Regions from separate parts of the Homo sapiens genome. Here region 1 is linked to region 2. Evidence: fine-mapped expression QTL. Tissue or cell type: whole blood. Region 2 holds a variant in brackets; the other region holds the start of a gene. All regions are shown on one strand. Distances are from middle to middle.

Region 1 (8,346 bases), 31 kb before region 2:
TACCTTTCCCACTTCATACCACCTTTTCCAACACCTTTTACAGAAAGAAAGGATGGACTTGGGTTTCCACGGTAACACAAGTGCGATAATTGAAGGTATCTGGCTATAGGTGAGATAACTCCCTTTCAGATTTAGTGGAGAGAGGAGAAATGAAGATTTTCTTTCTTTTTATTCTCCTGGCAATGCACTTTGGAAACTAAAGGGATCCTGCAGTGTCAGTTACTGCGTTAAGTTTTCACTATCTTACAGATTTACAGCTCTTGGGAATAATTCAAATTTCTTTTATATCATTTTTATTTTTTATTTCCCACAAACAAATGAAGATATAAGTTATTTCTATAATCATCTCAAAATAGAGTTTATGCTGGCATCGGAATGAACATGACTAAGGGGTTAGAAAATAGACATCCATCTCCCACCCAAGTCCTCTAAATTCTCTACACGTCCTGACATCCTTTTTATAGCAGCTAATCTTTCACCCAACATTTCACCTACAACCACAAATCAGGTAAGTACCATCATTTAAGCCAGAATAGGTGAGAAAATATGCTCCGACCTGTCATGTTTCTTTTGCCTCTTGGTGGTTAAAAATCAACCTTTATGGTACTGAGCATGAAATCTGAGGCCTGTCAATATAAGGCCTGTAAATAAATGAACTGTAACCACCCCAAGGGCTGCAGTCTCTATACCCCTTCTTATCAAAAACGTCAGCATTGATGAGAGGTCAGGGGAAATAGCCTGAGAAATGTCACAAAGCTGTCCTACTCTGTATTATGCTAAATGGAGTGACTACGGAGCCCACTCACTATTTTTGTGACAGCTTCAATCCAGAGCTTCTCAACATCTAGGGACCTAGGAGTCATGAAAACAGTTACTTAAGGCAACCTTCTGGACCCCACAATCCCAATACAAATTTCTCAAAAACATTAATCACTGGAACTTCATTCCTTGCAAAGTAAATGGACTTAGAGCTCCTTTGTAATGCAAGGTACTAGATGAGTTGTCATGATCTAGAGAGAAAGCTTCACGCTTCCTGGCTCTATTTAACAACCCTAAGAACTTCTTATCACCAAGATGCACAGTTAGAATCTTAAGACAGTCTGTCTTTCCTTGGAAAAGAAGTATAGCTTCTACTAACCCAAAGTAACCATGAATAAGCATACCAATTTTACACAAAATATGAGACTTCTGGAAAGCTAGGTGAACACCATACTTACCTACATCCTCTTGAAACATCCCTGCCAAAGTAGCTCAGATATGAAGCATCCATGTAAGCTCTTTCAATTTTAATTCACTATTTCATGTTAACTAGCCTAGGATGAAATAGTAGATCCTCTTCGGTTCCAGTTCCCTTAAAACAGTCCTGATTCTTAGTCCTTTTTATTAATATAATACCTTCACTGCTGATTCTGGTGGCTCAGATAGTACCATTCATATTTTAATGATATGTAATCAAGAAATGCTGAGTTATATTTTACTACATACACATTTTTAAATTCAGAGGACATTTGTCCTTGATAATTTTAAATGAAAACTTGGTGTGTGTTCATTACAGCAAGGTAATGCAAATATAAGTTATCCATTCTAATATAACGAAGCTATAGGGAAATAAGAAACTACTAAATTTGAGTAGTCTTTGTAGTAGTTTGACTATCGACAGAAAAGATGGTGAAAGAATACCTGGCTTTTAACTCAGACCAAAATCCCCTCTGCATGATGACCTTGTGGGAAAGAGGAACGGGGAGAGGTATGCCAGGCTCTAACAACAGAACTACAGAAACGTGTTATTCGCAGGAAATGTGCGACAGTAACGAACAGGTGAGACTAGTTTGAGAAGGACATAGTTTAAAGAAAGTAAACTGAATAACCAGTTACTGCAAAAAATAATGCAGGAAAGCTTGGGGATGTATCGTCTCCTAAATTTGACGTTATGGGTGGGAGAGGATGTGTAACTAAGATGCAATGCTAGCGACAGAACGCTAAGTTTTAAAACTCAATAGTGAAAGAAAAAAAATAATGTTTTGGGAGGAACGCCTGGAAGACCCATGCAACTGCTGCACGATGTTTCCTTAAGGACCGGAACATTTCTCACCCTGAAGACAAAAGTCCCTGTGTTCTCGATTCAGCCCACATCCCTCAGCACCATTTCCATGCCCATCATTTAGGCAGAATGCCACGGAGGCGACGTGAAAAGTGGAATTCATCATTCTGGCTTGCAACGCATCTTGTTCTTTTGCCAGAACAGGGCACAGCAACTGGCTCCTCAATCTCTGCCCCTCCCAAACCCCAGCAGCCGGTCCCTGTCTCCATCCCGCCGGCCTCGGTGGCAAGGGGCTCGCGAGCTCTGGTTGGCTTGGCCGAAGCTTCCGTCACTCGCCAGCTCACCTACGATTGGTTGGCAGAGCGTGCGCGAAGAGCCCCGCCTGGCAAGGCACTGGGAGGTGGGCTTGCGGATCCTACGACTAGCGTTTTTCTCGATTGGTTGAAGGAGTAAAGGCACGTGGTATGGGGGCGCTCTCTTATTGGTCGTGAATGGTACCTTGTGGTACAGAGACGTGATGTGGTTGGCTAGAATGAATCCCAGCTTCCCACTAGATGCCCCTAGCTGGCTGTTGCTATGAGGAGTCCAGGGCCTTCCGGCTGCCGTTCGGGATTCCGCTCTCCAGGTTTTCAACTCACCCGTGGCTGACAGGGCGTGGGAAGAGCTCGACTTCAGTTCGGCACCGAAAGGGGCGGGTCTAGAAGAAATGTGGGCGGGTCCAGAGGGTTGGTGGGCGGGACCCCGGCGACGTCAGCGGGCTTGGACCCGACTTCCGTGGTGTGTGGCCGCCTCTGACTCGCCCCTCTGGCGCGCTGCTAGAGGGGGGCGTCACCCTCCCATCAATGTCCTAACGCTCCAAAGCTTCATTTTGTTGCGTTTACACAACTTCAGTCAGAAGCCTGTAGGTGCCCCCCCCTTAAAGCTTCACATGCTAATACAAGATAAAACCAAAGCTCTAGGAGTGCTGACAGACTGGGTGGCATCGGACAAAGGCCCTCGCGGCCCCTCTTGGGCCTTGGGCATCTCTCCTTCACTCCCCGCCTCAGGATAAAGCTTGGAGGTAGCTCTAGCCCCTCTACCATCTCATCCCTTCCGAATTCTTAATGTCTCGGGAGTCTCAGGTTGACGCTGCTCCTGGCTTGGGCGGGAACTGCGCATGCTCGGTACACAGGCCCTGGGGTCTGACTGGGCGCGCTGGGTTCGGCGCTGCTCGGCGGTCGCGGTGCTTGTTTATCTCCGCGCGGGCAGAAGCTTCCGAGCCCCGCAAAGCCTCTCGGGAGCGCTCGCGGCCCGTCGCCTAGGGGGCGGGGGCGGGGCTGCGCCGCGGGCTCCGCCCCGGCCGCCGGACCCCGCCCCTGGCCGCGCTGCGGCTGGGGCTCGGGCGCGCGCTCGAGCGCTGGGGGTAGCGGCGGCGGCGGCGGCGGCGGCGGGCGGGGATCTGGGCGTGGAGGCGCGAGGGGCGGGGCGGGCGGCACTGCGGGCCCGCGGCTCGGGCGGCACCAGCGGCTCCCGGTCTCTCTCTCTGCTCGCCCTCAGTCCCACCCGGTGCCTACGGGGCCGCATCGCCGCCCGGCTCGGCCCGGCCCATGCCCAGGGCCGCTGCTCCCTCAGTTGCCGCCGCCGCCGCCGGCGCCCAGGGGGCCGCCGCGGCTGTGAGGTGGGGGCGGCAGCGGGAGGCGGCGGGGCGGGCCGCCGGGGCCGGGGCTGGGGGCGCAGCGCGGCCGGCGTAGGTCTATGTCGCGGGCGGCGGCGGCGGCGGCGGCCGCGGAGGGACGATGCGCGAGTACAAAGTGGTGGTGCTGGGCTCGGGCGGGGTAGGCAAATCCGCCCTGACCGTGCAGTTCGTGACCGGCACCTTCATCGAGAAATACGACCCCACCATCGAGGACTTCTACCGCAAGGAGATCGAGGTGGATTCGTCGCCGTCGGTGCTGGAGATCCTGGACACGGCGGGCACCGAGCAGTTCGCGTCCATGCGGGACCTGTACATCAAGAACGGCCAGGGCTTCATCCTCGTCTACAGCCTCGTCAACCAGCAGAGCTTCCAGGACATCAAGCCCATGCGGGACCAGATCATCCGCGTGAAGCGGTGAGCGAGGGCACACGGGGGCTTGGCGGCTGCACCCCGGAGTCACCGTCCCGGGGCTGGAACTCCCCGCGCGGGGCTCCGGGGAAGGGGCTTTCTGGGGGGTGGCTCCAAGCTGGAGGCTTTACTATTGTCATTCTGCTCCTCCTCCTCAATCTCAAATTTGAGTGCTTTGTTTCACAACTAAAATTTGGCATCGTGTTAGCCCACAGAACAGCTCTTTGTCTCTTGGACGTTGTTAGCATTGCTTGTTACAGAGCCCCCAAGGAAACAAAGTTTAAAACTTGCAGGGGGGAAAGGGGTGGATAGATTTGTCTTGGGAAGAGAGGAACTGTGCAGGTATAGTCGAGACATTTGCAGACTGAACAACAACAATCTGCCTTGGCAATGTTTGACAGTAAAAATCGCTCACACACCTATACAGTAAAGTCAAGTCCAGAGGAAGGAGACCTTTCTCATCTCGTTAAAGGTTTATGGTTCCAAGGCGTTTTACAAAAATTAAGTCTCTAATTTAGTGCAAAACTTTAAAGACAGATTATTAAATTATTTGAAGACATCATAAGCTAAATGGGGTTTCGAGAATATTAACAGAGGAGTACAAATAAGCCATTCACAGGAAAAGAATGCAGCTTAACTGTTTGTTTTTGTTTTTTTGTTTTTAATATAGCCGCCTTAACCCCTTCCAAAAAAAAAAAAAAAAAAAAAACACCACCACACCACCACCACCAGTTCCTGGAAACAAAACAGAAGCTTCTTCAAAAGTGTGACACAAGTATTAGCTAATTTAAAGTTAATGTTAATAAGCCTTTATATATATATATAAATTCTTTTCTAAAGTATACATTTTGGAAATATGGCTGATAAATGATTTAAAATGTTTGTTTTCTCTTAAATTCACTGAATATATTTTTCCGTGTAATTTTAAGCATTAGAAATGTGATAATATCTTAGTTCAAAGTTTTGGCAAATTTTTCTAATTATCATTTAATTACACATTACTGTTTCATCTAGTTCTTGTTAGTTAATGCCTGCTGATAATTTTGGTGTCCTTTTTTTCCTGCCTTATTCTACCTAGAGCCTAAATCTGAAGACCTTTACTGAAAGATGGTTGTAAGTGCACCGTAGACACAGTCACATTGTAAGTCAGTTTGAGTCCACTCATTTTGAAAGAGCAAGGACCAAGTTATGTGTACCCAGGGGATGATCAAAAATTCATTACGAGTAGTGAGTTTTTAATGCAACCTATGAGATCAAAGAGAAGGCTCTCTCTCTATTGCTCCACCCCCCCTTAACTGAGTATGCACTTTAATCGCTGAACTAAAATCGTGCATGTTATTCATCCTTGTGTTAAATTCCAAACTAGAATAAAGCAGATATTTTCGTGGTCTCTGCTGCTAAGATTTGTAAATTTGATAGCTTTGTACTTCTCCAGTATCATTTTCCTAAAGTTAAATGTTTATAGTTAAGAGATGAACAATTCTGGTGTTAAACTTAGTATGAGGATGGCATTTAAGGGGCTACATTTAAGTTACTTAAATTCTTATTACCCCCTCCCCCAACCACTCAATTAAAAAGAAACAAACCAAACCAACTGCAGGGTAGTCTGATACATTGCCACATGTCAATGTTAGGCCAAATGCATACATCAAAAAATAATCTAAGTAAATGCCCCAACAGCCTCACCCTTCACATTTAGATATATATGCTTAAAGATATGAAGATGCACATATACACTGATAAAGCCACATACCCATGGCTAACTTCTTGACACAAGCCTAGGGAACAAATATGGCAAAATATTATTGGATAATATGGTCCACATAATTTTGTAGTTTCTTGTAATTTAGTGCAGATTACTTTTCTCAGTTATAATAATAGGTTAGTCTAAACTCAGCATATTGGAGCAATTTGTTTATTTTCACTATGACCCAGAGGAAAAACATAGAGTAAAATTCTGCATGCCCAGTATCATTTTACTCACTAGTCTCAGTTCTTGATATAAAAAGATCATTGATCAGCTGAAGTAGAGTTCATAAATTCTCTTCACCAGAATTCAACCGTTGTATACATAAGAACCTCTTGGACCCTCACTTGTGTGTCTTTGTAATATGGTAGTAGTAAGGTATTTTACACCTCATCCTAACCCCAGCGTCTGGCTTCCCATCATTGATGGAGAGGACATGTGAATGCAGGTGGCCTCTTCTTTACCAGTCTTTCAGTATTTGATATCTACTGTCAAATTCAGTATTCAGCTTTAGGTCTAGGTCAGCACTTTTCAATAGAGATATAACGTGAGCCACATATGTAATTTTAACATTCCTAGTAGCTGATTTTTTAAAAATAACATAAATATATGGAATTAATTTTAATGTATTTTATTTAACCCACCATATTTAAAATAGAATCATTTTGACATGTCAGTATTCAAAAATTATTAATAAGGTACTTTACTTCTTTATACTGTGTCTTCAAAGTTTGGTATGTGTTTGACCTACCACATCTCAATTCAAACAAGTCACATTTCAAGTGCTCAGTAGCCGTATGTGGCCACAGGCTGCCATATTGGACAACAGAGGTCTAAGGTGTATATGATTTGGGGAAATGCTTGCTTATTTCTCTAAGCTTCAGTTTCCTTATCTGTGAAATAGAGATTAGCATGCACCTTCCAGAGTCCTTGTTAGAATTAAATGAGATAATGTATTTTAACATTCCCAAAACAATACCAGTACACAGAAATTGCTCAAAAAATTCTAGCTGTCATTCTTACTTTAATAACTTTGTCATTTATCTTCCTTAAATGTTACCCTTGATATAAATGTAATTTTAGAAGAAATAAATTTGTAATTGCATTTTGGAATTCATTACTTAGTATATTCAAGATGAGACTAAAAAGCAATGAGGTTAAAATAATCCTTGGAAGAATTGTGTTGGTATTCTCTTGAAATTATTTCCCCTTATGAAGGATCTGATGGAAAAGGGCATGAGAATGAACATTTAACTTCAAGTACAGTATAGCAATAATGCATAGCACTAATGCATAGCCAAACAACGAATGGAGCTTTTCATTTTTCATTTTCATTTCAAATAATAGCAGTCATTTTCAAGGATTGCTATTACTTGAAATGTTTCACTTTTAAGAAATGTGAAACTGACCCATACTCCCTTAAGTGTCTGTAAGTGTACATACCTCCGTATACATACATGACCTCTTGTCAAAGCCAAGTGGACCAACTGAAAATGGCTATATTTGTAAATTCATATGCTTTCTTTTCTTAACTTGATTTTGGGTGAGATGACACACACAAAGAAGAGTAACAGGGATATAGGAAATGTTTTTCAGTTGAAATAAAACTAGAATTTTTTTCTGATTTTGTAATTGCTTTTTTCATTGTTACCCATGCCAGGATCAGCCATGGTCCTGACATGAAGTTCTTGGAACATGATATACAAGGCCTCTTTGCTGTTAGGAAAAAGTCCAGAAATCTTCAACATGACCTTTCACAGTCCAGCTTGCTCTTATCCCTCCCTGCCTGTGCAGCCTCACCTCTTGCACCCATCCTTTTATTCTAGCACCCAGACCTTAAGTCCTTGAAAGTACCTTTCTCTGGGCTCTCCTTTGGCCTGTGGAAATCTACCTTTTTGCAGAGTTAATTCCTACTCCGTCTTTCACCCTCACCCCTGCTTAACCCATTTATACCGGAGGTTGCAAATGTTTTTTGTGAAATATCAGACCTTAGCAATGACCTTGAACAGTAGGATATAAATAACTCCCACAAGCTTAGTGTTCCAATAATGGAACACTAGGCATAGATGAGTTAAAAGATTTTTCCCCACTGAGGGAAGATGTCCTCTCAAACCAAAGTAACCCCTTTCCTGTCTTCCCTTACTAAACTTTATGCCTCACCTCTTTGCTCAATCACACATACCCTGTCCTTTCCCTTTTCTTTGAAGCACTCATCCAAATTTAATTATTTGTGTGATAATTTATGGGTAGCCAGCCTTTCTCACAAAACTCCAAGCCCACGTAGGTGACACAGCTCCTACTAGCACATAGGAAACAAGAAAAAATGTTGAAAAAATGAATGTTCAGAAAGAAAAGTATTTGTATTGTTGTTTGGCCTCAGTTTCCCTAAACATTTTGATTTCATAGATGGAGGAGATGATCTTTTAAAGTTCATTTTGCAGATGGAGATGATCTTCCTTCAGCTCGAACTTTCTG
Region 2 (8,346 bases):
GGTGTAGAATCTTTTCTACTGTCCCAAATTTTAACAGAGAGACAAAATTTATCACCGTCTGGTATTCTGAAATGTACATAATTTTTCTCAACATCGTACTCAGTTTAAAAATCTTCTGAGGATATTAATGTGGATTTCTCTAGTGTCTTTAGAAACTTGATTTTAGAAAAGGCCACTGACAAGTTAGTGATATAATAAACAGGTCCTCTGATACTGACTGCATTTTCATCTACATTTACCAGTTATTAAATGCTGTTATATGTGGAACTGTGTTTGCAATATTTTATTTACTGTTTTGAGAATTAGGTTGATGGTAAGATTTATTCAAATTCTTGATTTTAATAATGTATCAATACAACTTAATAATTTGATTTATTTGCAAGTTTTGAAAATCCACATATTCTAGTAGATCCTGAACTTAACTAAAAGTGTAAGAAATATTTCACATATAAAACATGATACAGGCTGGGTGCGGTGGCTCACGCCTGTAATCCCAGCACTTTGGGAGGCTGAGGCGGGCGGATCACGAGGTCAGGAGATCGAGACCATCCTAGCTAACACGATGAAACCCTGTCTCTACTAAATATACAAAAAATTAGTCGGGCGTGGTGGTGGGCGCCTGTAGTCCCAGGTACTCAGGAGACTGAGGCAAGAGAATGGCGTGAACCCGGGAGGCGGAGCTTGCAGTGAGCAAAGATCATGCCACTGCACTCCAGCCTGGGAGACAGAGCGAGACTCCGTCTCAAAAAAAAAATATATATATATATATATTTATATATTTATATTTATATATTTATATAGATATTTATATATTTATATATATTTATATATATATTTATATATATATTTATATATTATATATATTGTATTTAAACATTCTTTAAAATATTTATCATTTATCTCAACTAATAGAAAGTGATCTTATCACTTTTTATTATTCATAGACAGACTGAAATTTGTTTTAACTTAAATTCAACCAATGTTTTACTTAATTTTATTAATGTTTTTAAGTTACTCCACTGTCAAGCAAAGCATTTTAAAGTACACTGTGATGTATATACTTTCATAAGAAAAACGAAATGTAATTACATTTTGCAAGTAACACAAATTGGAAGCTGACATTGTCCTGACATGGCTGGCAGTGTCTGCTCCCTGCCAAGCTTCTCTGTATAGCCAATCAAGAGAGTTTATATGCAAAGTAGCAAATACATGGTGTTTTGTAATGCAGCTTTATTCTCACTGCCACTTGCCCTCCTAGAGGCCATGGGATGCACAAATTGTTTGTATGTAAGAGTCCTAGAAGATGTTAAAAACCCTTGTGTCTTATGTTCAGAGCTGTCAGCATGATCTAAGGCCCGAAATCGTAAGGTACAGTAGTGTACAGTAAATTTATATAAAGTCCTTTGATATAAATTGAAGTTGTCCAAATTCATTTCCTATAAAATGATAATATCCAAATTCTAGGTTTGCCTTTGATGTTGTTCCTTCCACTCATTTTTAAGTTGTTTTCATGTTTCACATTGCCAAATGGCACACTACCTGGAGTATGCCCTCTTGTTGAGACCATTCTTAGTTTGATATAGTGTCAAAGAAAAAAAGTGAGAATGTTGGGAATTTGGTTTGCTTTACAAGTTAGGATGAGTGGAGAGAACCCTCTTGACAGGATGAAGAAATCTGTGGAAGTATCATAGCGAACAATAACCACCTGCCTATTATCCAGTTTCCTGAATGATAAAAATTGTCTATGCATCCTGCCTCAAAGGCTTGACCATGGGGTGGTTTTCTCTTCTGACAGATTTAGCTGTTTCCAGTCACATTTGTTATCACTTTTGTGCGATCTTGCTGTTTAGCTCCTTTAAATCAGAAATACATTCTGCTTATGGGAAGACACACACACACAAACACACACACACACAGATTTATACTAAAATCACAAAAACCTTTTAAAATGTCTTGTGAAAATATATTAGCTATCTTTCTTAGAACAAACATAAAGAAGAATAGTAAATAAATGTGCAGTCCAGCACCAGTGTTGACATCTGTTGTGAAATGTGCTACATGGAGTAACCATTGTAGAGACAATCATCTTAGGCACCAAAATGACTTAGGAGCTTCTTTCTTTGTTCTTTCTTATCACTTACTATTTTTATTAGTTTAGCTTTTTCCAAACGTGTTTACTCAGAGATACCTATTTTAGTTAGGAAGAAAAAGAGAAATAACACCAATTAAAGCTAATTGAGGCTGAATTCTTGTCAGTCTTAAAAGAATCCTAATTGTTTCTCTTTGAACTGACTAATCCATAAAAGTTTTCTGAAGGGATGGGGTGTGGTTGTATTTGATAGCTTCCATTTGGATGATTTCTACTACCTTTTTTCTTGTTTGAGAACTATTAGAACGAACATGATCATTTTTTCAAGCTGGAGTGCGGTGGCACGATCTCAGCTCACTGCAACCTCTGCCTCCCAGGTTCAAGCGATTCTCCTGTCTCAGCCTCCCGAGTAGCTGGAACTACAGGCACCTGCCACCACACCCAGCTGATTTTTGTATGAACATGATCAATTTTATACACATAGAACATAGTAAAATGCTGATAATTATAAGTTGTTTGTTTACTCATTGTAGCTATTTACTGTGTGATCAACTGTGAAATTTTGTGCAACCCTCTCTCAGAATGGAAAAAAAAGAGGATTTAGTCTGAGTTTCTGAGAATAATTTTCCAAGTATATCTGGAAAGGTAAATTGATTTTAAAGGATATATAATTGATTAATTAAAACATCATTTCATAAAACTCATTTTATCATCCACTGTGAGAGCAGCTTCAAATGCCCTCAGATCTAAGTATCAAGCCAAGTGGTACAAATCATTTTCATGCAACTGAAGATACCATTTATGTTGGAATAGCCCCCAAAAACGAAAATACACGTGACCTGTTTAACTTTGTGCTAACTGTTACAATGTATGTGTGTTTTGTTTATTCTCTCATAGGTATGAGAAAGTGCCAGTCATCTTGGTTGGGAACAAAGTGGACCTGGAAAGTGAGAGAGAAGTATCGTCCAGCGAAGGCAGAGCCCTTGCTGAAGAGTGGGGCTGCCCCTTTATGGAAACTTCCGCTAAGAGTAAAACAATGGTGGACGAACTCTTTGCAGAAATTGTGAGGCAGATGAACTATGCTGCTCAGCCTGACAAAGATGACCCATGCTGTTCTGCATGTAACATACAATAGCATCCAAATATGGCTGTCCTGGATGGGATTTGCCCAATGTCGTAGGTGATAGAAAACTCGCCTACTCCACTGCAGAACTTGCAGAATGCGTGGTGTTAATCTACAGAGAACTGCAGCCCTTATTCAGAATTGAGCAGTGATTGTCAGTTGATATCTCTGAGTAACATTTGGGTTCAGTAACTACAGTTTTCACCATTTGTCCTCAGTCTCCTTTATGCATCTGCAACTTTAAGGCATAGTCCATCGATCTACAGGGTGATCTCATTTGAAAGCTATGATGGCATTGTCGCTGAGTTGACAGAAGCAACTATTGTACAAATTAAAAATAACCATAAGGGAGAAACCAGAAGAATTCCTCTGACCACTTACAATTAAAATATTTTGTCTTCTTTAAAAAAATAAGTAAAGGAGAAATATTTTCCTACAAGAGTACTGAATTTCAGGAAATGGGATAGAGCTTCTAACCA[A/G]TGTATTCCGTCAAGTAAGATAATAACAGCTGACCTGCCAACAGCATTACAGGGAGATTCTTTGCTCAGCTAACACATTTCTGTTTTTCAAAATTGATGCTTAATTGTAGCTGTTATTCTAATTTGTGACATGGAACTAACTCATGCTTCAATCCTTGATAGAGCAAAACTCAGAACAGGTTATGTAAAAATATAGTCTGGCTTTAGAATTTGTTAATTCACCTGCTTTGCCACAGAAAATGGAGGCTTTCACAAGGGTTTGATCAGAATTAAAACCCCAAACCCGCCCTCTGTTAGGGGTGGTCTTTATAACTTTACTGAACAAGAGGGAAGCAACTGTGATGGGAAGAGATTACCTAGCCTTACTAACAAGAAGCATTCTAATAGATAAACTAGTACCATCATGTAAGGAAGATGAAGCCATGTTGCATCCACATGTTCCCGTTTGCAGAAACCTCACAGGACAGTACGAATATCTGGCATTTTTAAGTTCATTAAAGCAGCAAATTCCTTCTCGCCTTTAAGGGCTATGGTTGTAGTGTGACCCGTGGCTAACCTGCTTTCAAAATCAAGTATTTGCTGTAGCAGAGCTTTATTGCAGGCATTTTAAAAATTGAATAACCATGTGAAATAATTTGGGCTTAAAAGTGAACATAAATTATAGAGTGGAAGGTAAGGGACAAAAGCCTTTTACCTTTAATTTTCCTGGAGAATTATATAAAGGTTTTCTTAGAACAATTTTGCCCTGATTACTGAAGCGTCAAATAAAGCTGGAGTGAAAATTTTGTTTTGAAAAGGTGCTCAAGCTCTGACATTTTTGGTTTTCATAGTCGTGAAGTATTTATCATTTGCATGACTAATGGCACAGGAAAAACCTATTCATAAGTTTTACAATCAAGTATAGAGGGGTCTTCAGCTAACTTAGTTATACATAAATGCTGAAAAGATTATCTTGAGCTGGGCCTTGGGAGAAGAATTTGGCCTTCAGAACTGCAATATCACTGAGCCTGCGATCTATACACCACCCCACATTTTGTTGGTTTCACAGTCTTGTGCAAGTAACCTCTGGTCTTACGTGTGTAACTGAGAGAAGAGTGTGTGTTTGTGTGTGCATGTGTGTTTATTGTTCCTAAGAATTTGGCACAAGTCAGAGATAATTGCCTATACTAAGAATCTATACTGCAGAATATAGTGTATCAAAAACTTTTTTCTTTTAAATTATTAAAGTGTCTTTTATACTTTTATGAAATCATTGGTAGCCCCCCAAGTGTTTAATAACTGGCATTAAGCTTAGAGGGTGAAAAAAAAAAAAAAGATTGATAGTATTTTTCATAATGAAAAAACTGAAGAGATACGTGAATGAAACCAGGCCATAGCTGTCATAAATCTTTGACTTTTGAATATTTACATTCTTCAGTATAATTTTTTATAATCCTCAATTATGAACCACCTTGTTTATAGGACAAAAAAATTTAACCAATTTTATTGAAACGAATTTCACTGTGTAAAAGTTGGTTTGATTCAAACATGTAGAGAAGTTGTAGATTCAAGATATATGATTTCTCTATGGAAATAAAAATATTTGTTAGTGAATTGGTTGAGTTTTGATTCCTCTAACTTCTCAGAATGATTCTTTAGAATTCTATAATTCATAGCAATTTTTGACAAGTAAGATTGCAAAATAGAAATATCTATAAAGATTCCACAGTTTGACATTATGGCTTGCTATGCAGATGTGAAAATAGGTTAAATAATATGAAAGATATGGCAGAATGTAAAGTGGAAAAGATGACCTAAAATTTTGAGTTGTATTAATAGTTAAAAACATTTGTGTCAGATGACAGGGTGGGCTTTTACTGTCAAGACATGAATAAGAACTGATCTGGCTGCCTGATGAGTGTTTCCACGCAGCCCTGCATATTTAGTGACCAAGGCATCAAGGACATCCCGAAACTGGAAATTCATATCCATCTGGTATGAATATATAACTCAGCTGGCAAATGAATGTGTTTGTTGAGATATTACAGTAATAAAACACTTAAGAACAGGAAGATTACATTTGTTGGCATACGAAACCTTAGTGGCTACAGAAGAAAGTTGACCTTGTGTCACTATTTATTTTATGCCCTGATCAGACTAGCAACTTAGATAAGTGAAAGTTTTTCTAACATGCCTTAAAAATATTATGGTTTGATCCAAAGACCCACTTTTTCTTTAGCTCTTGTGATAAGATTTTCTTTTTTTTACTTTTATACAAAGGCAGCATCTTTGAATTTTTTTTTCTTTTGATGTTGCAACTTTTGGGTTCTTTTAAACTGTGATAGTGATGGTAACTGATGCCTTTCATTTTGTTCAACTTATACAAAACAAGCCAGCATCTGATCAAAAGTATTACATAAAATATTTTCTTAAACTATTGAAAGGTGCTTTGATGATTTTCTCCTTTGGTTTGTAGAATTAGGACTGAACTTTTGACTCAAATTGCTACAGTTGCCATCACCTTTCTGTGGTAATACTACTGATATTTGCTTTTCTATATAAAGAAATGTTGCCTAAGGCTGTCTGGTATTTCTTTTCAAGGGTTTTCCAGTATGAATGTTAATGTTGTCAGTGTATGTATGAATATGAAAGTGCTTTGTTTTGTTTGTTGCTGTTTTTTGTTTATGTGTGTGTTTTTAATTTTTTTGTTCTTATCAGCAGTCTTGTGTTAGCACTGGGTAAGCTTTAATTGTCCCTTAGCCAATCAAACATTAAGGACTATGGAGGTCTTTTTTTTTTTATTTAACATGTCATTGTTCATCTATTAAATCTTGATCAGGGTTTCAAGAATGACTGCAGTGGGTTTTGGAAACAGACTTATCATTATTGATTTGAGGTTTCCCAGAGATATAGTTCACAGTTAATTGTTGCGCTCTAATACAACTGACCATTTAAAATTGAACAAGTTTATTGTTTTGTAACAATGTCAGTTGTTAAACCTTGACATTTCAATTAAAACATGAATTGTAGTTATAACTCAATGCAAATTCAACAGTTGTATTTGGAGTTAAATTATTTTAACAAATAAATTTATTTAATGAAACTCTGGATTTGCTTTGTTTTGTACATGCTCATGAGAGAAATGTATTATATACAAAAACAATTAAAAATTGCCATATAATGAATTTAGTACTCTTCATACAAAAATATTTTAGCTGATTTGAGAGTTCATCATATAAAAAGGCAGGTAGGTAGATAATTTTCATAGTCTTTAAAAATAAAAATAACATGTAAGAGACTGTAAAATCAGTTATTATAAATATAAACTTATCTCTACAAATGATTTTATATTTTGAATGGTAGCTGGTTAATTTAAAGCCTGATGCTAAGGTTAACAGAATTGTTCAAATAATTAACATTAATTAGCAATATCACTAAAATGATTCAGAGGCCTTCTAGTGATGGCTTGAAGCCGTCTTTCTGTTTTCAGGTCATGTGGATCCGAAGGTGCCAGAAGCTGAAGGTTGCCGCCAGGCTGTAGGGCCTGCTTGTTCTATATGGGGCCCTATGAAAGTTGACAGATGCTGTTAATTGTATACAGCCTTCAGCTGCTCTGATAAGGAGCCCATTCATTTCCTAAGCCAATTTAAACTATGCCTTTTGGTTATGTTGCCTTCAAACTCTGTTGAAATCCTCTGGCAGCATTCCACCAGTTGAGAAGCTTCATTGTTTTAGATTATAAGAATAATTTGAATGAATATAACAGAGGCACTGTAGATAGAATCCCAGATATTTAAAGGAAAACATGCCTATATTTTAGGAATATCTTCTGAAGAACTTCATAATTTTATTTGAAGTGTTTGTAAATTTTTTAATAAATTATTTAAATGTATCAATAGTGGATAGTTGGAAGAACGTCTTTGAGGCTAAAAAGTAGTACTCTGAAATTCTCTCAAGTTATATTATTTGTCTGTTAGAGGTCCACGAATGAAAATATATGTAGCTAAAGGAGTAAGGTGCTGCCCAATTTGGAACCCAACTGACCTCTAGGATCTATGAAGCAGAGAATATTACCACAAACTTCTGAAAGAAGCTGTTGACCTCGTTTCTTAATTTAAAATATGTTGCCACATAAATACTAATAAAACATAGTTGCTCTTCATCTCTTAAATGGATCATTCCAACTGGTTTTACATCGTTGAATATTATCTAGTATTTTTAATAAATATTTTCATAAATAGTTTTTGTGGTTTTTTTGTTTGTTTTTGAGACAGTCTCGCTCTGTCACCCAGGCTGGAGTGCAGTGGTGTGATCTTTGCTCACTGCAAGCTCCCTCCCGGGTTCACACCACTCTCCTGCCTCAGCCTCCCAAGTAGCTGGGACCACAGGTGCCCATCACCATGCCTGGCTAATTTTTTGTATTTTTTAGTAGAGACGGGGTTTCACCATGTTAGCCAGGATGGTCTCGATCTCCTGACCTTGTGATCCTCCCACCTTGGCCTCCCAAAGTGCTGGGATCACAGGCGTGAGCCACCATGCCTGGCCTATAAATAGTTTTTAGATAATATTCAACATCCCCAACATCGAGGTATTGAGTTTTAAAAGATTTGCTGCTATTCTAGGTAAGACGCTGTGTTATTTCTTTCTATATTTTCTTAGTAGTCTTCATGTTAGCC

The links.
Region 1: it holds the start of RAP2A, and the variant in region 2 is fine-mapped to the expression of RAP2A in whole blood (INTERVAL, PIP above 0.99).

Annotation. Positions count from the first base shown.
Region 1 is chr13:97,430,655-97,439,000 of GRCh38, forward strand. It overlaps RAP2A (RAP2A, member of RAS oncogene family), which reads left to right and starts at 3,515. Exons shown (of 2, transcript NM_021033.7): 1 at 3,515-4,130. The coding sequence starts at 3,817. RefSeq lists enhancers at 2,612-2,751, 2,699-3,630, 2,902-3,031, 3,052-3,101 and silencers at 3,252-3,611, 3,632-3,691, 7,543-7,736.
Region 2 is chr13:97,461,219-97,469,564 of GRCh38, forward strand. RAP2A (RAP2A, member of RAS oncogene family) reads left to right here. Exons shown (of 2, transcript NM_021033.7): 2 at 2,987-7,910. The coding sequence ends at 3,224. Among named protein-coding and RNA genes, the nearest start is that of RAP2A, 31 kb to the left of the region's middle. The variant A/G (reference allele first, on the strand shown) is at 3,692.